Homo sapiens: one gene and its partners. The protein of the gene in region 1 interacts with the protein of each later gene in a pairwise test. Each region holds a gene or a part of one and is shown on either strand. Other genes may lie near its edges. The genes, in order: CCDC167, AQP9, GLP1R and MEP1B.

Region 1 (7,027 bases):
CACCCACTGTCCTGGGCCCAAACTGTCCACTTTCCATTGGCAAGAACTAAAACCCCACCTGACTGCAAGGGATCAGGGAAATGCGTTCACCAGTCAGGAGGCCACATAGCCAGCTACTGTTTGCTTACTATGGAGGAAGAGACCAGTGTGTTTTCACAGACAGCCTGTAGTCTCACTACAGATGGCACCTCACCTCACAGTGTGGTTGTGAGGATTAAATGAGACATTGCGTTAAGTGCCCAGCACGTGCCTGGCACCGGATTGGTAATCAATACATGGTAGCTCCAGCCTTTGTATTTCTTTTGCATCCTTCCACCATGGCTAAGTCAAACTCGTTCTTGGGCATTCGTTCACTCATCTATAACATGAAGGACTTGAATTTCACCAGGGGTTACAAACTCCTTGACTATGGCCCAAATACAGATCACAGATGTCTTCTGTTTGGCTGACAGACTTTTAAGTTTTTATTTTATTTTATTTTATTTTTAGACAGGGTCTTGCTCTGTTGCCCAGGCTGTAGTGCAGCGGCATGATCTCAGCTCACTGCAGCCTCCAGCCTCCCGGGTTCAAGCAATTCTCGTGCCTTAGCCTCCCGAGAAGCTGAGACTACAGGCGTGCACCACCATGCCCAGCTAAGTTTTGTATTTTTAGTAGAGACGGGGTTTCACCATGTTGGCCAGCTGGTCTTGAACTCCTGACCTCAAGTGATCCGCCCGCCTCGGCCTCCCAAAGTGCTGGGATTACAGGCGTGAGCCACCACACTCGGCCGGATTTTTACGTTTTTAAACTTGGTGGGGCATGTATTCTCCAAGTGCCTTATACTGGGGCAGATTCCATTGTTTTACCCTCTCCATACCACGGTAGATGTTTATATTTGCTATCTTGGTCCCTAAGTTTACTTTTTGCTTGGATATTCGAAGATTTGACATCTGTAACCGTGTGCCTTGGAAAAAGCCTGACATCTGGCTGGCTGTCTCCCCACCTTGCTTCTCAGTTGCCCCCAGCGGGTCTGAGTATTGAATGTGCACTGATGCTCAGTAGCAGTAGATATTGTCCTCTTATTAAAAGTTGTGTGCTCAGAGCCAATGAAGTGGTGATTTAATCAAAAATGTTTGTTAATCTGACGAGTGCAATAAAACCCCCACAAGTGAGTGATCTCAGCACCTGCAAACAGTCTCCACTTGTAATGAAGCAATTACCAAGCAGGCAGCACTCACCCTTAGGGCTGGCTTGGGCCAGCTGTATAAGCAGCCACCTCTTAGGACAACCAGGGCACCCTCTAGCCTCCCCCTCAAAGTGGTTCCTTTTGAGGTCTTTTTATCCAATTCATTTGCCACCATATGAGATCTCAGAGTTGGAAAAAACTGTGAGTTTTAGCTTCTGAGATTTCATTCTTAATAAGAAAAGAAAATTATAGTTCAAATGAGAAATCACCCACCCAGTACTGATTTTAATGTTGTGTGGGAGGAAGGAAAGGTTGAATTTCAGTCTAAACTGATAGGAGAATTTTGACTGATGTAAAACCTGTTTGTGTTTTCGGATCTCTGATGGTAATGAGCTGTTCCTTTGTCATTGCACTTTTCTTTTGTAGCTGGACTGTTCAAACTGGTGTCTTTAGATGTTTCAGTGACCAGTTGGTCTTGAGTTAACAGATGTGTGGTGTCTTAGCCGGTATCCTAAAGTGGATAACTTGGTTGGATCTGACCCCTAGTACAGAAAGTTTATCAGTTTGGAAAGCTTTTGGCTACAAGTTATAGAAAACTGACCTCAATGATTTAAGCAAATGGGAGTAGACTTTTCCCCTTATAGAAATTTGTAGGGGCCAGGTGCAGTGGCTCACGCCTGTAATCCCAGTATTTTGGGAGGCTGAGGCAGGTGCATCATTTGAGGTCAGGAGTTCGAGACCAGCCTGACCAACATGGTGAAACACCATCTCTACTAAAAATACAAAAATTAGCCAGGAGTGGTGGTACACGCCTGTAATCCCAGCTACTCGGGAGGCTGAGGCAGGAGAATTGCTTGAACCCAGGAGGTGGAGGTTGCAGTGAGCCAAGATCGTGCCACTGCACTCCAGTCTGGGCAACAGAGACCCCGTCTCAAAAAAAAAAAAAAAATTTGTAGGTAGGTGGCTACTGGCATTGGTTCAAAAGCTTAGCTATGTCAGAGTTGGTATTTCTGCATTCTCTTCACTGTTTCCTCATGGTCACAATATAGCTGCCACAGCTCCAGTCTAATATTCAACTTTAACTCAGGAAGGAGGAGGAAGGAACAACACTGTCCCTTTTATCAACAAAGCATAAGCTTCCCCAGGAGTCTCCTAGCTGACTTCTGGAACGTCTCATTGGCCAGAACTGGGTCATGAGCAAGCCTAGCTGCAGTGAGGTTGGGAGAGCATCTGCTGAGCTTTTCCACCTTCTGGAGTAGAGGTGGGCAAAGGAGCAGGGGTGGGGAGTCGGTGTTGTGTTGGCCAGTTGACAGTATCTGCTGTAAGGAATAAATGCTAATGGGAGTCATTGAAAATTCACTGGAATCCTTACCAGAAAAAGAGGGCAGGATCGGCTGGGTGCGGTGGCTCACGCCTGTAATCCCAACACTTTGGGAGGCCCAGGCGGGCGGATCACCTGAGGTCACGAGTTCGAGACCAGCCTGACCAACGTGGAGAAACCCCATCTACTAAAAATACAAAATTAGCCAGGCATGGGGGTACATGCCTGTAATCCCAGCTACTCGGGAGGCTGAGGCAGGAGAATCGCTTGAACCTGGGAGGTGGAGGTTGCGGTGAGCCGAGATGGTGCCATCGCACTCTAGCCTGGGCAACAAGAGGGAAACTTCGTCTCAAAAAAAAAAAAAAAAAAAAAAAAAAGGCAGGATCACTGACCATGAGAAGTGGTAGGCTGAGGGGAGAGAATGGCCTAGGCCAGGAAGAGCACCGGAAGGCTTGACGCTTGTGGTTATTTGTATGGTGCCAGCCACTGCAGTAGCCTCCGTGGGGCAGGGCAGGCAGAAGCACCAAGTGTGGCTGAAGACGGTCTCCGCTCTGGAGCAGGCTGTGCACAGGGCTCAGGGGAACCTCCCACTTTCCTGAGACAAGGGCTAGGAGCAGGTGAGTGGACTGTCAATAAATATTTGCTGAACTGGCTCGATTGGCAGGAGGAGGCATTGAACCTTCCACCCTGACGTCTGGGCCCAGTTGAGTGGAGGTCACAGTAGAGCAGGCGGTTAGACGCCACCTTGCTGGGACCCTGAACCCCAAGCCAGGGGCTGGGAGAAAGGCTCGCAGCACGCAGAGGACTGTTCAGGGGCCGCTGACCATTAAATGAGCCTCACCTGCTGCCAGGCGAGAGCGACAGGTCGCCATTGGGCAGGTGATTTCTCGCGGCAGCCTACATCTGGCTCTGCGCCACTTGACGGGGGTCAGGAGACTAAAACCTCATTACCTAGCGCGGCTGGATGGCGGCGTGTGTGGAGTGGCTGTCTGCCAGCATCTTAATTAATGAATTCATAAGGCTCGGGGTGGATGCCAGTTCTTGAAAAGTGCTTTGAGCCTTTCAGCGATGAACAAGCTTTTGCTAGTTTATCAAAAAATAGATATCGGGGGGAAAGAAGACAAAACAAACCCCACACCACCTTCCGGCCCAGGGACAGCTGGCATCTTCGGGCGCGGACTGGCTCGGGCGCTAACTTGCAAGGCTGGCTCGGCCTCCGTCTCCTCGCGGGAAGGCGTCGGGACTCGCGTGGGCTGCAGCGGTTCCCTCGCCTTTCTGACCTGGCATGGGGGTGTGTCCAGGCGAGCGACAAGCCCCTAGGCTCTCCCTGCTCTTCCTGAAAATTGTTCATTGATTAAAAACTGGGAAGGTCTGCCGTCTTCAGCTGCACAACCTGCGAGAGAAATCCTTACAGGGCCTGTTGATGTGGGGAGCCATGGGCGGAGGTTTTTCTGCCCCCACAGAGCTCTGTGAGCCGCCTCCACAGAAAAACATCCCTTAAACGATGTGGGGATAATGGGCCCCTTGGGGTTTGAGGCTTGTCACCTGGAAAATTGAGGCCTAAGAACCCCGTGTGACTTGCTGTGGAGCCTGAAGGCTCCAAATGGAAAGCCCCTGCACTCTTGCCAGAGACCATCTGGGCAGGCACTTGGCTGCTTTACCCATTATAATAAATGTCCTGGGGTCTCCTGACGTGTGAAAATGAGTGAATTTTCAAAAATCCAGTTCCCAGGCTGCTGGGGCTGGAGATGAAACAGCTGACACCACTCTCCAGGCTGTGAATTAGCAAGTGAAAGGGAAGGCTTCGGTACTGCTGGGGAAAGAAGGGTTTATCAGGCCCAAGTAGCCCACCTTTTTCCGTCTCCAAACTGGATCTGTTTTGTGTGAATTTTGGAGGATGCTTTGACAGTCGAGGTGATCTGGGGCAAAATGCCTGGGATGTTTGTGAAGCTCATTGAGTTGGCCCAGTGTAAGGGCAGACGCTGGGCTCCTGTCTCCTCTGTCTCAACAAACAAATTTCAATGAGGGCTTTCCCTCACAGAGAGTATCTGTTATGTAGACAGAAACTGAGCAGAGCCTTGTACAAGATTATTCCGAGTAGAGAATCTGTTGAAGCCAGATCAGCAAGCTTAGATGGGCTTCAGCTGGGATGTGGAATGACTGTTCTGCAGAACTCTTGTCATGAATGTTTTCATGAGGGATTTTGGAGAAAGAGCTTGAAGTGGTGGAAAGAGCATAAGCCCTGAAGCAGAAAAACCCAGATTCAGGCTTCAATTCTGCCCCTTCCCAGTTACACGACCTTGGGCAAGGTGCTGAAAACCTCTGCAAGGGAGCTTGCACCTCTGTAAGATGGAGATGGGCCCTTCCTTGCAGGGCGGTTGCAGACACAGGAAGCTGCCCACAACCTGCCCAGCTCCAGGGGTAAGGTGTGGAGGTTGTGCCCAGGAGCTAGGAGTCCCTCAGAGCTGATGAGCGCTGCCTTCTCCATGTGGCATGGTGGTTAAGGGCACAGACGTGGCTGCCCAGCTCCCGGACTTAATGCCTGTGTGACCCTGGACAGTTACCTATGTCTGAGTCCCCTCATCTGTCAAATGTGGATGCTGATAATACTGCCCACCTCACAGGGTTCTTGCGAGCATTATGTGAGTTAATCGGTGTAAAGCATGTAGGTCAGTGCCTGGCACACAGCACAGACTACAGAAGTGTTGCTGCTGCTGTCACTGTTGTGGTTCCATTTTGCTGGGACTTTTGGTTTCCAGAGGCTGCTTACACTCATGCTGTCATGCAGACACTGGAGACTCTGTGACTTGGCTCGGCTCAGCTACCCTGGCACCACGCTCTTTATTGGAAGGTCTGAGTGCCCAGTAAGGACCTGTCCAGCCAGGTGCAGTGTATGCCCCATTACCACTGCCTGACCCTGTAGCAAACCTGTCACTCGCTGGCCAGAAGCTCCCAAGAGTAAAGCCGGAGAGACAGCAAACAGCTTCCTAAATCAGAAAGCAGAGTGGCCTGTGTAGCCCAGCACCAGGCCCCGGGGGTGCCTTCTGCCCTTTCCCAGAAACAGGTCTGGCCCTAGACAGTGGTTCATTAGGGAGTGGGCAGAGAGCCACCTCCCCGGCTGTCTAGATGCTCTGTGGGAACACCATTCAGTAGGAGAATAGAGTGAACGGTAGCCTGTGGCTCGAACTGTCTCGTGCTTGTTGGCAGAAAAGCTGCATATGAGGCCCCCAACAGCAGCTAGCCGTGGAGCTGGCACCCCATCAGCTGACCTGGCCAGGATGCTGGGGCAGTTATCTGTGCATGAGCTGGCACGAAATTCCCTGCCCCCAGTGAGGCCTCCGTGGGGCTCTGATTCTGAGAGGGCCTACACTCCTGAAAAGATGCCTCGCGGGGATTTCACACGAATTTTACAGTTTCTCTTAACACAGTGGTTTTATGGCATATAGGACCCCAGGGAGACTTCCTTAAAGCTCCCAGAATAAGGTGATATTCCCCAAGTCAGGCTGCAGAGGGGAGTTTGCTTATCTGCCTGGGGGCTGCTGAACTCCAGGCCCGGGTGCTTGGAGCTGCATCTGTCTGATGGGCTCTCAGGGAGGCTGCAGGAAGAGTCCCTGCCCCTGCCGCTGGGCATGAAGAAGCCCTTTCTGCTCTTGGCACCTGCCAGCAGGATTGACGGCCCTACTTGGCTAGGGCCTTGTCCCCAGCACCCCTCAGGCCTACAACACAGCCTCTGCAGCCTTGACTGCTGGGCTGACTTTAGATCTTCTCATTCTTCTGCACAGAACACCCCCTCTGTGGAGGGCCTTTGGTCTCATGGGTCTCCTCGCTGAGCTCACTCCTTCACCCAGCAGGCCTCAATTCCCTGCCCCAGGCTCTGATACTGAGAAGCAGCAGTTCTCAGTAATTTAGGCAGCATCACTACGGGGCTTTTCTGTTAAAAGAACGGACTTGTTGGGTCCCACTCCCTAAGGCCTCCCCTGGGGCCTTTCCCACCTGTCTACCTGAGGGATGCTCCTTCTCCATTCCCTGCCTCATATGCCTCTTTTTCCTTCCTCCTCCCCTCTTCCTTTGTGCTCTGTGTCTCCCCTGCCTAGGCAGACTCCCCAGCCATCCCCCCAGGCAGTTTTTAGCCACTGCTGGTCTCTGGGTAAAGAACAGACTTTCCCCAGGACACCCTTCACACTCTCCAACCTGTTCCTTGGGCCCCTGGACCGCTCACACAGGGCTTCACACAGCGCCTCCCCAGGGCTCAGGCTGGGCCAGATGCCAGGAAGCAGTGTGCTGGCTGACAGTGGGTTCATACCATCGCCTCTCTTACTTCCTGGGGTCCCCAAAGCCCCTGCAGATCGCAGCCCTGTGCCCCCTGCTGACTCATCTCAGTGACTGGGACACAGTGCTTTTTCCCCATGTAAAAATTGACCTTGGTTTTCTGAGTGTAAATATAATGCACGGGTGGTTCTTAATGTTATTGTACAGCAGGGGGCACCTGCTCTCTGCCCCCACACTGTGCCGTCTAGGTCTCTGCCTTGGCTGTCTCTACT
Region 2 (7,027 bases), on another chromosome or scaffold:
AGTTCAGGCTCCCTAAGGACTGGTGGCTTTGGGAACATTTTGGGAACATGCAGCACAACACACTGGCCCATCATGACATCTGTGTGGACAACAGCATCAGTATCAGCTTTGGCAGGTGCAGGAATAGGGGAAGATTGTGTGTGGGAGGTGACTTTCTCATCGTGGCTGCAGCTAACATACTGGTTTGTGGGCACATACTGGCTTGTAAGGTCTGCTTGAAGATTCCAAAAGTAACCAATTTATACTGAGCATAAATGTGAATGGGATCCTATTTTGTGGTCACCGACTAGTGAGGTCAGCAGATATTTGTCTTTTAAATATAAAACATCACCTTATTGTAAAGAAGTTACAGCATCCTGCTCCCCTGGGAATGTTCCAGTCAAATCCAGTCAGTCAGAGGTCATAATACCCTAATTATGTAGCATCCTGCACAAAGCATTTAGGCTGTCTAATGGCAATTGCTATTGATGTAGTATTTTATGACTAAAATAAACTTATTGAAAAAGCAAATAGACTTGCTTTCATTACAAAATATAGGGTTATCTTGATCACAGGATTGTGTATGGGTGGCGAGGAGGAGAGGATTTGCATAGAACAGAACACTGAAGGGGTTCCCTCTGCTCACCTAAGACTTTCATCTTGTGCCCTGTGGGATCCAGCTGTGCCCGCGGGCCCTTTATGTGAATAATCTGATTGTCCCAGCAACCTCGGCAAAGCCAAGAGTTGAGTGCAGGACTCTCTGACTCTAGTTCTCATGTTCTTTCCAATACACTGCTCTGCCTTGTCCTTGTGATAAGCCAGGGTGACCACTCATCTCTGCGGGGAGAAATTTCTAGCAGCCACTTGGCCTCTAACCAGAGGCATCAGGGTGCCACTTGTCCACCTCTCTTTCTGAACCTTTCTGCCTCCTCTCCAGCCCTTTTCCTCATTGCTTTGCAAAGCACCCTTCCAGACATACCCTCTCTAACCCCCAAACAACTATTTTTCTCTGTAGATCACTGTAGTCTGAGCTATCTAAATAAGGCCTCAGATTATTTCTTCAACTTTCTTTTTTTTTTTTAATGGAGTCTTGCTCTGTCACCAGGCTGGAGTGCAGTGGCATAATCTCAGATCATTGCAACCTCCGCCTCCCAGGTTCAAGCGATTCTCCTGCCTCAGCCTCCCAAGTAGCTGGGACTACAGGCGTATGCCACTATGCCCAGCAAATTTTTGTATTTTTAGTAGAGACAGGGTTTCACCATGTTGGCCAGGATTATCTTGATTTCTTGACCTCATGATCCACTCGCCTTGGCCTCCCAAAGTGCTGAGATTACAAGCGTGAGCCACCATGCCCTGCCTATTTCTTCAGCTTTTATATTGAATACCTACTAAGTGCCTTGCATCATGTGAGACCCAAGGTAAATAATAGTTCCAGCCTCAGGATGCTTAGGAGGAGCCAACAAACAGAAACCTACTTATGGGAAATTTTATTTTGGAAGACGAAATTGTTAAACAAAGAAATCTCCCATTGGTAGACTAAACTCAAGGGAGTTGGACTGGAGGTGATCACTTACGGCCCCCTTGGTTTTTTGTTGTTGTTGTTGTTGTTTGTTTTTGTCGCCCAGGCTGGAGTGCAGTGGCGCAATCTCTGCTCACTGCAACTTCTGCCTCCTGGGTTCAAGCAATTCTCCTGCCTCAGTCTCCTGAGTAGCCAGGATCACAGGTGCGAGCCACCACGCCCAACTAATTTTTTTTTTTTTTTGAGACGGAGTTTCGCTCGTTGCCCAGGCTGGAGTACAGTGGCACCATCTCGGCTCACTGCAACCTCCGCCTCCTGGGTTCAAGCAATTAGCCTGCCTCAGCCTCCCGAGTAGCTGGGAATGCAGGTGCCTGCCACCACGCCCAGCTAATTTTTTCTATTTTTAGTAGAGACGGCGTTTCACCATGTTGGGCAGGCTGGTCTCAAACTCCTGACCTTGTGATCCACCCAACTCAGCCTCCCAAAGTGCTGGGATTACAGGCATGAGCCACTGCACCTGGCCCCGCACCCCTTTTCCTTTCACAATGGCTACCTCCAGGCAGCTGGAGGCAGCTACTCTGCAGCAAGCCTCTGGGAGAAGAGAAACTTCCCACTGCCCTGTGTGCCCCCTCCTCCCTCCTAACCCCTGTTTCTAGCCTTCCCTGGTAAGGTGTACTGCTAGTCTCCAGAACTGTGGCTTTCCTGGATTTGAAAGGAAAACACAACAGTTGAAGTGTTTATAAGGCTTTAGGAAATCATCTGTGCTTCAATACACTGGCATTTTCTTGCTCATTGTAGCCACTGAGTGGCAGGGGCAGGTGAAGAAAGGACTCTTGTGGCTTAGCCAGCAGCCAGAATCCCCCACCCACTGCAAGTCCATTTTGCCCTGGAGACTTGGAAAAAGCATAGCTTTCTCCACAGGGAGTGGTAGAGGCTTCTGGAAACAAGTGCACCTATTGGTTCTGTGCAGGATCATCATCATCATCATCATCATCATCATCATCACCACCATCATCCCTCCTTTGTTTACGACCAAGGCCACAGCCTGAAAGTCCACATCTCAATGTGGTGTCTCTGATTCCCCCTCCACAAAAAATGTCATCTGTATTCCTCAAATGAACATCTGTTTTCACTAGGAAGTGAGCCTATATGCTCAGACAATTTTTTTAAATTCTTTATTTATTTTTCTGCCCACAAAAGCAGAGAAGCCTTTATAAACACGGTGAAGATGGGCTGGAAGTGGTATAGCAGAAAACACAGGCTCTAGAATTCAGATAAACCTGAATCTGAATCCTGGTTCTTCCATTTACTGACCATGTAGCCTTAAGAAACTTACTTTCCGTCCATGCCTCAGTTTTCTCATCCGTTAACTGGAGTAGTACTCATCTCATTGGGTTCTTAAGAGGATCAAATCCACCTACTAACCCTACAATGGTGTCTGGTAAGTATTTGATAAATGCTGCTGTTGTTGTTACTAGCAAAGCCAGCTGGGGATGTTAGAGACCAACCACAGAGCAAACTCTCTATTTGATTTTATGGCTGGATGCAAGTCAAGGAAGCCGATTTCTCTAGCTGGAGCTTGGGCTGGGCTCAGGAAAGGGTTGCTACATTTCTGTATAGGAGAGAAATGCATTGTTTATGCAGAGGAACTGAGAACAAGCCACTCACACTGTGACCACCTCAAAATCAACTATGCCCCCACCCTCAGCAACCCACAGTCATTTTCCTTTAAAGATACATCTCTTTTGAGCTTGTTTTTATATCCTCTGGGCATGGCCGGAGGAACTGCTAGATATAGATTTAAATCTTATACATATATTGGATAAGCATATTGACTTTTAAAAGATATCGAAGTTAATAGCTACATCAGTCTGTTTGGGGTGACTGCTTTATAGATAGAGGGATTCAAGCCTATTAAAAAAACAGCCACTTGAGCACATCAAGTTTCTTTTTATACCTGACTCTCTTTTCATCAAGATAAACATTCTAAACTGTTATCCAAGGATGCCATGAAAATGATCATTCCTCCTTCTCTCCCTGCTCAGATACACACTCTCTCTTTCACGTGCATACACACCCCTCTTTCTCCTCATAGGCAGTAGTTCTCTGCCTAGAAGACTGAATTCCACCTGAGGTCTCTAGATGGTTTTCTGTATATTCTTCTTCCTAACCTGCCCTCTCACTTCTCCAATCTTCCCTTGCAGGTGGTCACATCAACCCAGCTGTGTCTTTAGCAATGTGTCTCTTTGGACGGATGAAATGGTTCAAATTGCCATTTTATGTGGGAGCCCAGTTCTTGGGAGCCTTTGTGGGGGCTGCAACCGTCTTTGGCATTTACTATGGTGAGTAAAGTCCCTGAGTCCTAAGGTTAGGAAGAGCTGGGCATAATTTGAAAGTCAGAATTACTTGGTAGGCACAGGCGAGAAAAAGCAAGGACGGGAAGCATTCTACAAGTGACAGCAAGTTCTAAATTTGAGAAAATGAGGCCATATTACCATTCCAGCAAATTCGTGAATCCTGTTAATGAAAATGGTCATATCTTAAATGGGGAGCAGAACTTAAAGGAAGCCTGTCTTTGTGCCAAGCCAGCACTGCAACATACACATCCATACAACAAGCAGTAGGCCAGTGGCTTCCCCACTGCTGTCTCTGATTTGGCTGGGAAAAGAGGTGTTTTCTGGTGACAAAGGTGTGACCAGTAAGTATTGAGAGAAGGACTCTGGGAAGATGTCTTTGAAGGAAGAGACACAGCAGAGATGTGGGCTGGGTGGGAGCCTCATTGCCCTTCTATCAAACAGCCAGGGCTTCCACTCTGCAACAGTCCTTGGGAAAAACACAGTATTGGTCATAGAAGACCAGACTTTAGCTCTAGCTGTTCAGTAAATACCTGTGCAACTTAAATAAGTCATCTGATCTGACTAGCCTCAGTTTCCTCCTCTGGAAAATGAGGGAATTGAATCAGATGACTCTCGAGGCCTTTCAAACTAAAACACCTTGGTGTTCCCATGAAATCAACTGTTAAAGCAGCTCCTTCCTTCTAACCCAAGGTAAGCCTTAATACATTATGACTTACCCAAACTGAAGACCTTAGGAAGTAGAATTTATGAACCAGGCCTTATAGAAATGGGTCATGGAGGGCTGGGTGTGTGGTGGCTCATGCCTGTAATCCCAACACTTTGGGAGGCATAAGTGGGAGGATCGTTTGAGCCCAGTAGTTCAAGACCAGCCTGGGCAACATAGGGATACCTCGTCTCTTCAGAAAAAAAAATTAAAAATAAGCCAGGTGTGGTAACTCACATCTGTAGTCCCAGCTACTCAGGAGGCTGATAAGAGGATTGCTTCAGCCCAGATCAAGGCTGCAGTGAGCCAGGATCATGCCATTGCACTCCAGCCTGGGCAGCAGAGCAAGACCCTGTCTCCAAAGAAGAAAAAAAAGAAAAAAAAAAAGGAAAAGAAATAGGTTATGGAAAGGGACTTTTCCCCATAGAGTGTCTCTCTGAGAATTAGAGTCTAAAAGGGCTAAAATGGAATTCAAGAACACACAGGAAATTCAGAGCCCGCTGCTGTGGCAAGAATGGCCTGGGGTCAGTGCTAGCTGTGGCAGTGGCTGCAATACCCCTGGCTCTAAGGGCATCTTCAGTATACTGCAACACCCTCAAATTCTGGAGTGGTATTAGGGGTTACTGAGAGCCCTCTGGGAATTATAAATTATTCCTAGAGCAAGACCAAGCCCCACTTTGGCTTACAGTTGACCTCGAAAACTCCAAGAATTCCCCCAAAAGAGAACTCATTCCCAGGACCCTATCGAAGAATAATTTGTCCAAGTTTGCAGTGGGCCATTCAGAGAGGCCAAAGGCCTTCTTCCTTTGACCCTCCATCCTGGGATTCACCTGGGCATCTCTAAAACTATCATTCCTCGGAAGTAGAGAGAGACAAATGACATGGCTATGCCAAGCTCAATCTGAGTGACTGGTTGTTTAGCACAAGGCTTGGCACAGGCCTCCTTCAACTCTTCCCAGGGAACACTAATGTGCCAGAGCTTTCTCTTTCATAGATGGACTTATGTCCTTTGCTGGTGGAAAACTGCTGATCGTGGGAGAAAATGCAACAGCACACATTTTTGCAACATACCCAGCTCCGTATCTATCTCTGGCGAACGCATTTGCAGATCAAGTAAGTGTAGATTCAACAAAGACTTAACTTTGGTGAAAAGATATGCTCTCATAAGGGGAATGCATTGGAGAATTAGAGACCAATCAGAAAGGAGAGATTATATTTCCAAAGGCAGAGGTTGCTGGGCATAACCCAAGCTTTCTTGATAATCGTTTTACCTTTACAAGGAGCTGATACCACCAGAAAAGTTTTCTCCTTCCTCTTTAATACGTACACTTGTTTAACATTAGTTGAGATCCAGAAAAGAGTGAATGACTAAACATTTCAATCCCTGTAGACACAAATGGACTTCACTTCACTATTGACTCTTTTGAACAAGTGGTCTAAGTGTGGAGGCCACAAGAGAAGATATTTCTATTTCAAATCAAAGACTGTGAAGGGTGGTAGTTGAGCCTAGGGGATCATCAATCCTCTCTGTCTCACCATGTGCATAGGTTTATTTATTTAAACTCTCAAGGTGGCTAGAAGTATCTCTGCTTATTGACCTTTAAACAAGCTTCTAGCACCCAAGCATACTGTGGTGTAACCAATAGCACACCTATTTGGTCAGCTTATGGCAGGACTAACATTGTCAACTCAAAAGACTCTTCTTCCCTTACTGTGTCCCAAGAAGGCTGCTGGTTATCTTGGTCAGGGCAGTGGAAGGAAGGCTATATTTTTCAGTATCTCTAAGTTCTTCCTCTATGATCAGGACTTATACAGTGGAGCAGATCAGAATGGGCATGTGTATAAAATGGATCTTCCAGTTCATCAGCTATGCCCACCTCCATTCAATGTATGGATGAAAAACTATGCCCTCATGTCCTCAGCTTTTTTACTTTCCACTTTCATCAATAAATCAAACAGGCAACAAGTGTTCATTAAAAACTCACTATGTGCTTGGCCCTTTGTCTGGAGCTTGAAAGACTGACGAGTAAATGTGAGTTGTAAAGATCCAAGATGCAGAGTCTGAATGCTTGAATTAAAATAGCTGTTCTGCCTCCAACTTCCTGCGTGGCTTCAGCAAAGTACTGAACTTTTTGGGTCGCAAGTTATTCACTTGTAAAATGGGGATAATATGAGCCTTCATGAAGTTACTTATGAGGATAAAAAGAATAATATGAGAAAAACGCATTGTAAGCAGTATCTGCCCAGAAATTTTGAATCTAGTTGAAGAGCATTGAACAAGGAAACAATGCAAAATAAGATATAATTAGACAGAGCTGGGCACGGTGGTTCACATCTTACTCCCTGCATTTTGGGAGGCCAAGGTGGACAGGTCACTTGAGCCCAGGAGTTCACTACCAGCCTGGGCAACATGGCAAAACCCTGCCTCTACCAAAAATACAAAAATTAGCCATGCGTGGTGGTGCTTGC
Region 3 (7,027 bases), 1.6 Mb from region 1:
ACAGACACCAGCCTGCATCATGCAGATGGAAAAGGTGGGAAGACTGGGACCTGGAGGGGTGATCCCTGCCCAAAGTCACCTAGTTGGAGCAGAGCCAGAACTAGTATCCCCAGGTGTCCCAATACCTGGGCCAGTCTTCTCTGTAAGCACATGGGACAAGAAGCCTTCCTGGATGTAGCTCTGGGTACCAGCCTGGCATTGCAGCTGCCATCTACTTGGTGGCGAGCACCCTGCCAGGTGCTTTACATGCATTGTGCATTTACTCCTCACAGAACCCAGGAGATGTGCAGGGTTAGCCTCACTTTACAGAGGAGACTCAGAGGTGTTAAAACCAGAGTTACGGTGTCACAGTTTCAAAGAAAAGAACTGATCCTCTCCACTAGCATTAGATGATGCTAAGGGGGTGTAAAAATACAAAAAAACTGGTCCCTGCCTGCCCCTCAAGAGTGTCATGAGATGCCTGCACACATGTGGGCTCATGTGTGTGTATTTACATACATGTGCAGACATACAGAACACAATTCTGGAGCCCTGGGTCTCCTTCATGAACAGATGGGGCTGGAGTGGGGAATATTCTCCATGATCAGAGTCATTGTACTTCACTGGATCAGGCCTCCTCAAGGAGAGGTTGGATGTAGGATCTCTACAGCTTCTGGGCAGCTTCTGAGCAGGGTCTCCTGGACCCCATGGCACATGCCTGGGAGACCCATGGGGAGAGGCTAGCTGGGGCCTGTAGCCAGGCCTAGTCGCAGAGGTGCAACCCTGGTGTTCCTTCAGAAAGGAAATGAGAGGGAAGCCACTGCCCCATTCCTGGATCTGCCTGGGCCGCTGGATTTGGGGAGGGGGTTGTTGAGGATGGAGTCCCAAAGTGCTTCCGACCAGGGCCAGTCTGCAGGGCACCTCCCTCCTGCTTCCTCCCTCTTGATGTGACTCTTGTTTCCAGGGGCTGATGGTGGCCATATTATACTGCTTTGTCAACAATGAGGTAAGCTCTGAGGAGGGACGGTGGGGACCCTGGTGGGTGGGTACCATCAGCCCGTCTGGAGTAGTACAATGGGGACTCCCATCAATCTTGCCAGCTGAAACCCCCTACTCACCTCACTGAGGCACTAGGGTTGAGAAGCCATCTTGTCCACAGATTTGGTTTTCTGTGCATGGTCTCTCTCACACATGAACACACACACACAAGTACATGTACAGGTATACCCTAATGGCATGTGACCCTAAGGAAGACCCAGACTCATGTTAAGGGGATCCTGAATGACCCTCTTTGCTTGGTGGTAGTGACTGTCACTTACAAAGTGATTCAACACACACATACCCAAGCCACATGCTTGGGGCTTTAATAATCACTATCTCATTTAATTATGACCCCCACATCCCTCAAAAAAAAACCCTGCTAAAATTCTTATTTCATATTCCCATTTTTTATATATACATGAAAACACTGAAGATCAGAAAGAGTCAGGAACCTGCCCTAGGTTTGGAAATAGTGGCACACATCGCTTCTTAGCCTTTTGGCTAAGGTGAAGTGTGGAAATAGTGGCATGGCAGAGCCAGGATTCAAATTAATTCTGCATTAAAGCAGAAAGTACCCCATTCTTCATACACACAGGCAAGAGCCCTGGCTCACTGTGGGGAAGGGGGTGGCTTTCTGGTGCTAGGATGGGAGAAGGGGGTTCTCGCTGGCCCCACACACTCTCCTGAAAATGTCTGCAGGACAGCAGGCCTCCCTCCCATCCCTGAGATGGTCAGCTCCTGGGAGGAGGGCATGGCTGTGTTCATGGGCACCTGGAAAAGGCCCCTTCCACCAAGGTACTCAGCTTTGGAATCCCAGAGCTCAGGGATGTTGGAGTCAGCACATTAATAGGCTTGTCTTTTTCTATGGGTGTGGGGGATGCAGAAAGGACAGTGGGTGGGGACCTGGGTGTTTCAAGGAGCTATGAGATGGCTCAAAGAAGCAATGTGATGTAGCAGAAAAGATGCAAGGATGCAGGCTTTGGCATCTTATTTGGTCTGATCTGGGCCCCATCACTTAATGAGCTGTGTGACTTTGCCTAAGTTACCTGCCCACTCTGAAACTTAGTTTGCTCATTTACAAAGTGGGGATAATCCTGTGAGGATTAAGAAAGTCTGAAAAAGGTGCGAAAGGGGAACAGAGAACAAGTCCTTCCTTCAAGGTGGGATGCTGAAGGCCCATCCTAGCTCCTCACAGGTGCTGCTTGGCATGGAGAAACACACACCATTATCTCCAGATGCTCAGTAAGCAATCACTATTAGATCAGTATTCAGTGATTCCCAGAGACAGGGGCCTAAGGAATTTCAGAGGATGCCGTGCAGAGAAAATGAGGCTGGGTGAAAGGGAAGGGAGGGGAATGTTCCCTTGTCCCTGAGGCCTCCCCCTGCTTCTGCTGAACTGGCTACCTGTGGGAAGTGTGGCCCTCAGATCTCTAAATGGGAGGGAAACCAAGGTCTCTTAAGGGTTTACTGCATATAAGGTGCTCAGAGTGTCTCATTACATCCAATGCTGTGCAGCAGATGGTATCCCCAATTCACAGCTAAGAACGTTAAGCCTCAGCAAAATGAAATGAGTAGCCTAATTCAATAGACAGAAGATGGTAGAGCTAGTGGGCTGTGGCGGGGGCAAGATCCCACTTAATGCCTCAGGGAAGCAGGTGCTGGGGAGGTGAAGGCAGCGCCAGGCAAAGAGTGGCCCATAAATGGGATTCTGGCTGCTCCTGGGACAGGTCTTAGAGGACCCAGCGGCTCCGTTTGGAGGGTAGGGCAGGGAACAGGCTCGTGACCCACAGGAGGCAGTCCTGGTCCTCCTCCACTGCCATATCCTCAAAATGAGTTTCTTTAAAACTGATGCAAACGAGGAAGTGCAAAAACCTAAGCTCTGTGGGTGGCCTCCCCTCCAGGAATGCTCTCAGCCAGCTGGGTGATGCGCTACCCAGCCCTGAGCTCTGCTGCTTTCCATTCCAGCCCAGTGGTGATGGGGGCAAGACAGGGTGGCATGTATCCTGTGTGGGGATGAGGAGCAGAGGCCTGTAGGGAGAGACTGAGGCTCCCTGCTGCCACCTTGTCATCTTGACCCCCCCACGTCCCCGTTTCTCACTTCTCTATCCTCTGACACTGTCACTGCAGCCCTACTAGCAGACACGTGTGCTTGGCTTCCCCCCCGCCATTGTGAACAGTCTCCCCTGACCCCTGGCTCAGCTGCCTCTCCAGATTCCATCCTTCCAAGCCTAGTCATCTCATCACCTCCCTCCTCATGCACCACCTATGGCTGGCCCACCTTTGTAAGGGGATAGTACTTCTTTGCCCTTGGAAAAAAACTTGATCCTGAATCACCAGGGTTGCACCTCTCTGACCAGGCCTGGCTACAGACCCCAGCTAGCATCTCCCCGTGGATCTTCCAGGCTAGTGCCACGGGGTCCAGGAGACCCTGCTCAGAGAACGGGAGAACCTGTCTCCCTTCAGAGCACCAGCCAGTTCCTTTAAACCCACCCTGAGACTCCTCATGCCCTGGCTGCTCCAGGCACAAGGACAGATACATCATTGTCACTGGGCCACAAAAGACACATGTGGCTCTGGGGCTAAGGCCTCTGTCCACAAGAGCTGTTCTGCAGACCCAGGGTTGCCATGGCAATGCCAGGTACTTGTGACCTGAGGAGAAAAGATGGCTTGAATATTGGTTCTGTGTGGCTGCCAAGGCCTGCACCAGCTGCTGGTGGGCGTGAGTGGGGACAGGGAGGGGGAGGCCTGAAGGTGGTTTTGCTGTAGCTTGTGCCTGAGAGCCACAGTGAGGTGACTCAGAGCCCTGAGTGCTTGTCCCAGCCCTGCCACTGCCGAGCTGTGTGACCTGGGGCAAGTCATTTTGCCTCCCTTGCCTCTGTCTCCCCAGCCGTAAATGAAGGTGAATGAGCTTCCCAATTCACCCCGAATCCTGAGGCTGGCATGGTGCCTGCTGGAGAGGGAGGTCAGGAGGGGTGTGCTGCACTGCAGAGGTCGAGGGCAGGGATGAGGATAAAAATCCGATGGTGGAGGAGGAAGTGTGGTGGCCTAAGTCCCAGCCCAGGTGCTCAGAATCTGTGGTGTTGTCTTTGTGGGTTCATTTTCATAGCTGAGGAACAGAAGGAACCTGATGTGAGATGCTCATGCATTTATGTGTTCATTCATTTGGTTCATTTAAAACACATGTACTGAGCACCTGCTGTATGCTGGGCACTGTGCTAGGTTCAGGGATGCTGAGATGAAGAAGATGTGGTCCCAGCCCTCGAGGTGCTCCCAGGTGAGAGGTAGGAGATGGACCAGGGACAAGCAGGACTGCAAGAGCCACGCAGGCAGGAGGCCAGGGGTTAGGAGCCGGGCATTGGAATCAGGCCAGATCTAGGTTCAAATCCTGGCTGAGCGACCTGAGGAAATAAACACTCTGCACCTCAGTTTCCTCATCTTTAAATGTGGAGCTACTTTGCAGGGTTGATGTGAAAGTCAGCTAAGATAATTAATGGAAAATTCTGTGCATACAGTAAGTGCCCAATAAATATGGTGATTTTCAAGGACAATCGTGATTACAGGGGTCACAGCAGAGGTTCAGGAAAAGTGCTGAAGGAGATGGGGGCAGAAGGAGACACTGTGTGTCAGCACCCTGAGAAGTCCCATAGGTGTCCCTGAAACCTCTCTTTGGTCTCTGGTTTCCCGGAGGTGTGCCTCAGTTTACCATCTTTCCCCCCCTCTCCAGCGGAAGGGCTATGAAACAAGCCTGGCCTCCTGGCAGCTGCACAAGTGGGGGCCACCACTGGACTCAGGGCCCCCATCCCAGCTGTCAGCATGCGCTCCCTTCACAAAGACTCAGCCGGGCAGGGAGCTGGCATACAACAGGGTGGCTGTAGGTGGTGTCTGCTCAGCCTCCTTCCCTCCCCCACTCAAGCTTGGGTTCATGACGCTGCATGGGACACTGGCGTCATCCTGGCAGGCAGCCTCTGGGCCATCTCAACTCTACTCAGTGCAGAAAATGTTCTTTTAAGGGATGGCATGCAGCCATACCAGGCGTCTTGCTGGGCATAGCTGGATGGACGACAAAGGAGGAGAGGAGGGTTGTTTGCACAGGGGCTGGTGGGGAGATTGGCCCCTTATCCACAGCCGCTGGCATCTGGCTGTCTTGGTGACTTGGCCTAAAGGGAAGGGCCCAGACCCCAGACACTCTGGTGTGGGAAGGGTGGGGACTTCAAAGAAGCTCTGGAAAGCAAATGTATGGGAACATCACCCAGAAGAGCAGTCCAGACCCCCCAGGACTAGCTTGGCAGGTTCCAGCTAGGCCTCTCCAGGGACCAGAATCACTGGCCACCACCGGGAGCCACAGCATTGCCACAAACCCTCAAGGGATGGGGGCTCCACAGTGTTACTTGGATTTGTCTCTTTCTGCCCCAACAATCTGGCCCCCAAGCATCAGCCCTCCTGAGAGGCTTTTCCTGATGGGGAGGCCAGAGCCCAGCACAACAGGGATCCTGGCTGACTGAGCTCCCCTGGGCTGCACCCCCATGGTCACTGCAGTGTCTCTCTAGATGGCATCAGTTGAGAAGCCCTCACTGGCTGCCCCTTCCTCCCTGCTGTTTCCCGTCTCAGCCACATTCCTTCCTTCCCTCCCTCCTCCCCTGTGAGGTGCTGGGGCCTGGAGAGAAGCCCTCAGGGAGTTTAGAAGGGTCTGCTGTAGACACCAGGAAGGCTGGGGGTTGCCGTCCCCCTTCTCAAGCATCCAAGCTGAAACTGGACTGTGCGCTGTAAAGACAGAGTCTCTCTTCTCTCTCCCATCTCCTGTCTCCCTGTGTTTCACCCTCCCTCTCATTCTCTTCCGTTAAATAATACTGTGATGGATTGTAAAAGGTACTTAGCTGAATCACAGAGTTTAGAGATGGAAAAGACCAATTAGGTCATCAAGCTGATCTCTCTCCTGAGGAGCTGCAGAAAATAGGAGACAACAATAAACAATTTTATTGGGATATTAATTTAGGAGCCCGAAGGCCTTGACTTGTGTCTCTTAATATAATGCAGTGGATTTCTTCCCTTCCCCACTAATGTAATAGTGGGGCCATTTTGTTAGCCATTGGTTTGCATGATGGCTTTCGTTTCCCTCCTTTTCCCATGGAAGGTCCAGCTGGAATTTCGGAAGAGCTGGGAGCGCTGGCGGCTTGAGCACTTGCACATCCAGAGGGACAGCAGCATGAAGCCCCTCAAGTGTCCCACCAGCAGCCTGAGCAGTGGAGCCACGGCGGGCAGCAGCATGTACACAGCCACTTGCCAGGCCTCCTGCAGCTGAGACTCCAGCGCCTGCCCTCCCTGGGGTCCTTGCTGCAGGCCGGGTGGCCAATCCAGGTGGGAGAGACACTCCCAGGGACAAGGGAAGGAAGGGACACACACACACACACACACACACACACACACACACACATACATCCTGCTTTCCCTCCCCAAACCCATCAGACAGGTAAATGGGCAGTGCCTCCTGGGACCATGGACACATTTTCTCCTAGGAGAAGCAGCCTCCTAATTTGATCACAGTGGCGAGAGGAGAGGAAAAACGATCGCTGTGAAAATGAGGAGGATTGCTTCTTGTGAAACCACAGGCCCTTGGGGTTCCCCCAGACAGAGCCGCAAATCAACCCCAGACTCAAACTCAAGGTCAACGGCTTATTAGTGAAACTGGGGCTTGCAAGAGGAGGTGGTTCTGAAAGTGGCTCTTCTAACCTCAGCCAAACACAGAGCGGGAGTGACGGGAGCCTCCTCTGCTTGCATCACTTGGGGTCACCACCCTCCCCTGTCTTCTCTCAAAGGGAAGCTGTTTGTGTGTCTGGGTTGCTTATTTCCCTCATCTTGCCCCCTCATCTCACTGCCCAGTTTCTTTTTGAGGGGCTTTGTTTGGGCCACTGCCAGCAGCTGTTTCTGGAAATGGCTGTAGGTGGTGTTGAGAAAGAATGAGCATTGAGACGGTGCTCGCTTCTCCTCCAGGTATTTGAGTTGTTTTGGT
Region 4 (6,883 bases), on another chromosome or scaffold:
AACAGCTGTGCTTAATAAATGTCTTTCCTTTTCTTTTTTTTTTTTGAGACAGAGTTTCACTCTTTTCAGCCAGTCTCGAGTACAATGGTGCGATCTCAGCTCACTGCAATCCCTGCCTCCCGGGTTCGAGCAATTCTCCTGCCTCAGCCTCCCAAGTAGCGGGATTACAGGTGCCCACCATCACTCCCAGCTAATTTTTGTATTTTTAATAGAGACGGGGTTTCGCCATGTTGGCCAGGTTGGTCTTGAACTCCCGACCTCAGGTGATCTGCCCCACCTTGGCCTCCCAAAGTGCTGAGATTGCAGACTTGAGCCATTGTACCCAGACTGTCTTTATTTTTCTATAATCATACTTTTTTCTTTTTCTTTTAAAATTTTTATTTATATATAATTGTTTATATTTTGGGAGTACATATGATGATCTGATACCTATATACAATGTATAATAATCAAATTAGGGTGATTAGGGTATCCATCAACTCAAACATTTATCTTTTCTTTGTGTTGGGAACATTTCAAGTAATCTTTTCTTGCTATTTAAAAATATATAATAAATTGTTAGCTATAATTTACCTACTGTACTATCAAATACTAAATCATTTATTTTATCTAACTATACTTTTGTACCCCTTAACCAACTTCTTTTCATCTCCTCCTCCCTTCCCTTCCCTTCCTAGCCTCTGGTAACTACCAATCTACTTTCTACCTCCATGAGATAAATTTTTTTTTAGCTTCCAGATATGAGTAAGAACATTCGATATTTGTTTTTCTGTGCCTGGATTATTTCACTTATAATGACCTCCAGTTCCATTCATGTTGCTGAAAGTGTCAGATTTCTTTTTTATGGCTGAGTAATATTCTATTGTGTATATAGACCACATGTTCTTTATCCATTTATATGTTGACAAATACTTAGGTTGATTCTATATCTTGGGTATTACAAATAGTGCTGCAATAAACGTGTGAGTGCAGATATCTCTTCAATTTACTGATTTCCCTTCTTTTGGATATATCCTCAGCAATGGAATTGCTGGATCATATGGGAGTCCTATTTTTAGTTTTTTGAGGAACCTCTATACTGTTTTCCATAATATCTCTACTACTTTACATTTTCACAGTGTACAAGTCTTCCTGTTTCAACACAACCTTTCCAGAATTTGTTATCTTTCGTTTTTTTTCTTTTATAATAGCCATTCTAACTCAGGTAAGATGATATCTTATTGTGGTTTTGATCTGCATTTCCCCGATGATTAGTGGTGCTGAGCATTTCTTCATATAGCTATTGGCAATTTGTTTGTCTTTTTTGAGAAATATCTGTTCAGGTCTTTTGCTCATTTTAAAATCAGATTATTTGTTTTTTTTGGTATTGAGTTGTTTTAGTTCTTTATATATCTTGGTTATTAATTCCTTGTCAGATGGATAGTTTGCAAACATTTTCTCCCACTCTGTGAGTTGTTTCCTCACTTTGTTGAGTGTTTCCTTTGTTGTGTAGAAGCTTTTTAGCTTAATGTAATCCCATTTGTCTGTTTTTGCTTTGGTTGCTTGTATCTTTGAGGTCTTACCCCCCAAAAATCTTTGCCCAGACCAATATCCTAGAGCATTTCTACCATGTTTTCCTTGAGTAGTTTTATAGTTTCAGGTCTTACATTTAAATCTTTTTTTGTTTGTTTGTTTCTTTGTTGGGTTTTTTTTTTTTTTTTGGAGACAGAGTCTTTCTCTGCCACCCAGGCTGGAGTGCAGTGGTGCGATCTCGGCTCACTGCAACCTCCGCCTCCTGGATTCCAGCAATTCTCCAGCCTCGGCCTCCAGAGTAGCTGGGATTACAGCTATGCACCAGTGCAGTGCACCACCATGCCCAGCTTATTTTTGTATTTGTAGTACAGACAGGGTTTCACCATGTTGGCCAGGCTGGTTGCGAACTCCTGACCTTGTGATCCGCTTGCCTCGGCCTCCCAAAGTGCTGGGATTCCAGGTGTGAGCCACCGTGCCCAGCCACATTTAAATCTTTAATCCATTTTGGGTTGATTTTTGTATATGATGAAAGACAGAGATCTATTTTTATTCTTCCGTATATGGATATCCAGTTTCTCAGCGCCATTTATTAAGAGACTGTCCTTTCCCCAGTGTAAGTTCTTGGCATCTGGTTTCTCTGGGTTCTCTACTCTGTTCCATTGGTCTGTTATAATAATTGATATTTTAGGTTCCCATTCACATAGATGTCAAAAATTTAATTGCGGCTAATTCAGGATTCACATTTTACCTTTAGGCTTGTGCCTAACCTTAATTAACAGTCCCAATGCATTGGGAAGGTCCCTTATGATCCCTGATGTCATCTATCCTCACAGGCATCCTCTAAAATATCAGTCCCTCTGTCTGGTCCTTATTTGTGATTCTGTGCAGCCTGCAATGGAGACATCCTTATTCCTATCCACATGGCTCTTCAGGCATGACAGCTTTTTCTGATACTTCTATGCTTCCCTTGGCCCCAGGAGTTATTCTCCTCTTCCCAAGATGTGCCTTCTTCTGTAGAGTCCCTTTGCTTCCTTGTAGCTCTAGCCAAGAAACAGGACCATTTGATTTTGGATCCTATAATATATCTAGGGGATCTCAGGGATCAAGTGAAGAACTGACTATAACTACAGTTTTCAGTTTTCCCATTTAATTCTCATCCTACCCTCATAGGGTGGGAAGTGCTGGCTTGTACTCAGGAAGCAACCTCTCAAACTCCTTGTCTATGCTACATGTCTCTTGATAGTCTTCCTATTAGCACAAAATGGGGTGAAGGCTAAGCTGGAGAGGGGAAGGGGAAACTAGAAAAAAATTAGGTTTTTTTTTTTTTTTTGAGATGGAGTGTCATTCTGTTGCCCAGGTTGGAGTGCAGTGGTGTGATCTCGGCTCACCGCAACCTCTGCCTCCCAGGTTCAAGTAATTCTCCTGCCTCAGCCTCTCAAGTAGCTGGGATTACAGACATGCACCACCACACCTGGCTAATTTTTGTATTTCTAGTAGAGATGGGGTTTCACTGTGTTGGCCAGGTTGGGCTTGAACTCCCGACCTCAGGTGGTCCACCCACCTTGACCTCCCAAACTGCTGGGATTACACATGTGAGCCACCATGGCCAAAAATTAGTATTCAAAAAATATTATCCTGCATCTTAAGTAAGTTGAATATGAAGCCATGGGAACTGAGAGAACAGGTTGTTTCTAAAGAGAAATTATCCCAAGAAAAGAAGGAAAAAGTGAGAAAGAATTAAGAGATGGATTGGGAACATTATTTTATTAGAAAATCAGTGACCATTCCTACTTTTATGACCCATGTCCCACCAGTGTTTGCTTGATGGGAATTTTTAGGGATGAGATACATTGCTATGTTACTACTCTATATGTGAATAACCGGTGTGCCTGATTTCTAGCACATTAATGGATTTTATAACTCAATAAATTATAGGCACTCAATAATTTTTATTAAATGAGTGAATGATAAAAAGCAGTGGACATAACTGGATATATTAAAGCAGCATGGGGCTATATGAGAGGAGGAGTTTCATAAGATCAAGATTAAAAATTAATTTGATATATATATTTTTTGCTTAAGTGGTGTTTACTAGTCTAAGGACCAGTACACATACATTAGAGAATGTATTCATTAAGAAGTCTCAGCCAGGCACTTAATTGTTGACACAGGAAAAAAAAAAAAAAGCCAACAAACCAACTCCGCAGAGCTGTGTTAAAAATACTGGACTTTCATCCCTTGATTGGAGGTATTATTACAGCATCAAGCTGACCTGCAATATGGATCATTGAGATCAAAGGCTATAAATTATAATGTTTGCCTTTAAAGAAGTCAATTCAACCCTGAATGTCATAGTTAGCTACTTTCAACTGGAAGCTACAACATGGATTTATGGAATCTGTCTTGGTTTCTGTTCTTGGATGCTCTTCTCGTGATTTCTGGCTTGGTAAGGAAACAGTATATAGAAGATAATTTAAAAATTTTGGGGCAGTTGATATTGATTGTTAAAGAACAAGTGTTTTTTTTTTGTTTGTTTTTTATACATCTTGAAATGTTGATCTCAAATGAGTGTTTCTTCTTGGAGATTAGGGGTGGGCAGTGTGTAGGGAGTGACAAATAGCCACACCAGAGTAGAGACATTGATATAAAGTTATGTTTTCCTTTCAGTTTCATCATTGTGTAACAAGTTTTCTTTTGATGAGATTATAAATGTGTATTTTGAAAATCATTCCATTTTTACTGCTGAATGAAATGCAGATTGCTGCACAGTAACTTGAGACATGAATGAGTGTCACAGGCACCGTCAGTACTTACAAAGTTTTATAACGTGGTATTTCTCTTATGCTTCTTCATCAGTTTAGACTCATCCTTCTACAGTTTGGACTAATCTTTTCTATCAGGTAGTTTGTATCACAAACCAACCCAAGGTTTTAAATGAAGTTTCAAATGGCTAGTGGAAAACCTTCAGTTGTTATTTTAAAATAACAATTATTATATTGGGGTGATATTCTATGAATAGGAACTAGAACATTGCAAACAAGAGATACAGATGAATACATGTTAAAGTGTAATTAGGAATAAATCCTTGATAATTTTATTCTGTAGGTGCACTGGCATTCCTCTATGAGTGTATGCCTGTGTGTGGTTATAGTGTGAAACATGCAAAGCACTTGTTAATGTCAAAAATGATGGTAACCATCCATCCAGTTCATTCCCACATTTTGTTAAACGCTCCAAATGATTCTAGTATTTAGATATGTAAGCTGTATTTGAATAAAATTGTACTTTACACTTTTGTGACAATTTATTATAGCTTACAATGAGCCTTCTTTCACATTATATACTGTAACCCTCACAATACCCATGCAAAGCAGGTACTGACCATATCTTATGGATAGTCTGAGTACCTGGAAGGTGAACTGAATTACCCTTAGTTAGTAGAACTGGTAACATAACCCAGACAGTCCTATGAGCTTTTTAATTCAATCACACTAAGACATTTCTCAGGTTTACTTAGTTGTTTTTTTTTTTTTTCCTTTGGACATGTAGTCTGAGTTTCATTGACCATTTGTGGAGAATCTATTTTCAGAAAAAAAATTAATCACAAAATGTACCCATTGTTTTTCTTAAATATTTGTATTGTCTTTGAAGGCAGAATTATTCTGGGAGAAACATGAATGCAAAATAACTTGATTAATGAGTCTTGAATAACATTTCTTTTTAAAGAATTGTTATAAATTACAGTATTATTTCAACATTGAGAATAAATTATTTGGTTTTTCAAACATTGCTCCATGAATGCTTTAGAAAATCGTGTGTAAAGTGAGCACTTATTTGAGAGCTAGAGTCTTATGTTCTGCCTTTTCCCCCCCAATTTTTGAAGTTGGTTTCTTGTTTCCTTCACCTTCAAATTGATTTAACAGGCAGTTTCATTTTCCATATGAAATGAGAAGACCCTTTGGTCAAAAAGTCATCTTAAACTTCAATTTAGCCATCCTAAATACATGTCAGGAAGTAATCCATAATATTAATGACAAAACAAACAAACAACAAATGGTTAGATATAAACTGAATCCAAGAAGACCATTCCTGGGCATTATAATAATATGTTTTGTTTATGTGTTTATTTCCCAGGCAACTCCAGAAAACTTTGGTGAGTCTATTTTGAGTTTTGTTCTAGGTTATAGAGAACCTAGGACATATTTAATGCTAAACATCATACATAATTACATATGCATAATTGATGCATAATTGCATTGAACTTTGATCTAATACTGGATTCTTTTGATTTATGGAGGGACATTTTATTGTCCATGTTCCAGGCTTCATATGCCCAGCAAAGAAATAGATGGTATAGGAAAGGCCAAGCACAGTGACTGACACATAGACATCCCATAAATGCTTGCTATTATTGTTTTTGTTATTTTGTGTCAAATCAGATGGACCTAATAATAACAGTCTACTCAGTATTCACTTGCATACTCGGAGATTTGGCCATATTATATACACCTTTACAACTTAAAATAGTAATTCAAGTTTAACTTAAGAATTTTGCTTGAAAGTTCCAAGGTATACTACTAGCAAGTGATATACATGTATGAGTAGATTGGGCTAGTTTGACCAAATTTAATCATTTGTTTGCTATTTAATCTAGTCTTCTAGTCTTTCAAATTATGCTTAATAATATATGGAGCAACCAATTTCTTATTCCCGAAGTCATTTGACATTCAAGGAATGTCGATAGGACAGAATACATACATAAAAGCTCTTTAGAGCCCAACCTGGCTCATAGGAGATTCTTAATCAATCAATCAATCAATCAATGTATGTTGAGTCTGAATCTAGTAGTCACCTGAGGCCAAAAGAAACTTGCTTAGTTCTGATTATATAAATGATAAAGGTTTTCTCCTTTTATAAACATAATGTTCAATTTTTTGTTGTTGTTGTTTTAATCAAAGATGTAGATGGCGGAATGGACCAGGACATATTTGATATCAATGAAGGTTTGTGGATTTTTTTTACATAATCTCTTAAGTAGAGAGTTTGAATCCAATTTGCTAACATGAATTTTTATCTTTACTCTTAGGTTTGGGACTGGATCTTTTTGAGGGTGACATCAGACTTGATAGGGTGAGTTGAAACAGTATAAGGAAGAATCTTCCATTAACCACTGCAAGCCAAATTCAGAGTAACTGAGAAAGATTAGACAGCATGAACTTTGTTAAGCCTAACTATCTCTAAGGGTGCAGAATCATGGTGACACATTTATTCAATGAATATATTATACTCAAAGAAATGCATATAATTGTGTCTTCATCTTTCATTACTCATATTTCTGTGTGGTTCAAGCCACCATAACTCATTACATATG

The links.
Region 2: the proteins of CCDC167 (region 1) and AQP9 interact in binary tests that used the Homo sapiens proteins (3 or more experiments, as listed by UniProt).
Region 3: the proteins of CCDC167 (region 1) and GLP1R interact in a protein complementation assay, tested with the Homo sapiens proteins (one study listed by BioGRID).
Region 4: the proteins of CCDC167 (region 1) and MEP1B interact in a protein complementation assay, tested with the Homo sapiens proteins (one study listed by IntAct).

The regions. Positions count from the first base shown.
Region 1 is NC_000006.12:37,489,893-37,496,919, reverse strand, and holds part of CCDC167 (coiled-coil domain-containing protein 167), read left to right. Parts: intron 1-7,027.
Region 2 is NC_000015.10:58,169,366-58,176,392, forward strand, and holds part of AQP9 (aquaporin-9), read left to right. Parts: intron 1-3,702; coding exon 3,703-3,840; intron 3,841-5,552; coding exon 5,553-5,671; intron 5,672-7,027. UniProt on the Homo sapiens protein: Aquaglyceroporins form homotetrameric transmembrane channels, with each monomer independently mediating glycerol and water transport across the plasma membrane along their osmotic gradient.
Region 3 is NC_000006.12:39,079,755-39,086,781, forward strand, and holds part of GLP1R (glucagon-like peptide 1 receptor precursor), read left to right. Parts: intron 1-943; coding exon 944-985; intron 986-6,151; coding exon 6,152-6,319; 3' UTR 6,320-7,027.
Region 4 is NC_000018.10:32,186,176-32,193,058, forward strand, and holds the start of MEP1B (meprin A subunit beta isoform 1 precursor), read left to right. Parts: upstream 1-3,863; 5' UTR 3,864-3,895; coding exon 3,896-3,958; intron 3,959-5,646; coding exon 5,647-5,665; intron 5,666-6,470; coding exon 6,471-6,515; intron 6,516-6,598; coding exon 6,599-6,642; intron 6,643-6,883. UniProt on the Homo sapiens protein: Membrane metallopeptidase that sheds many membrane-bound proteins. Exhibits a strong preference for acidic amino acids at the P1' position. Known substrates include: FGF19, VGFA, IL1B, IL18, procollagen I and III, E-cadherin, KLK7, gastrin, ADAM10, tenascin-C.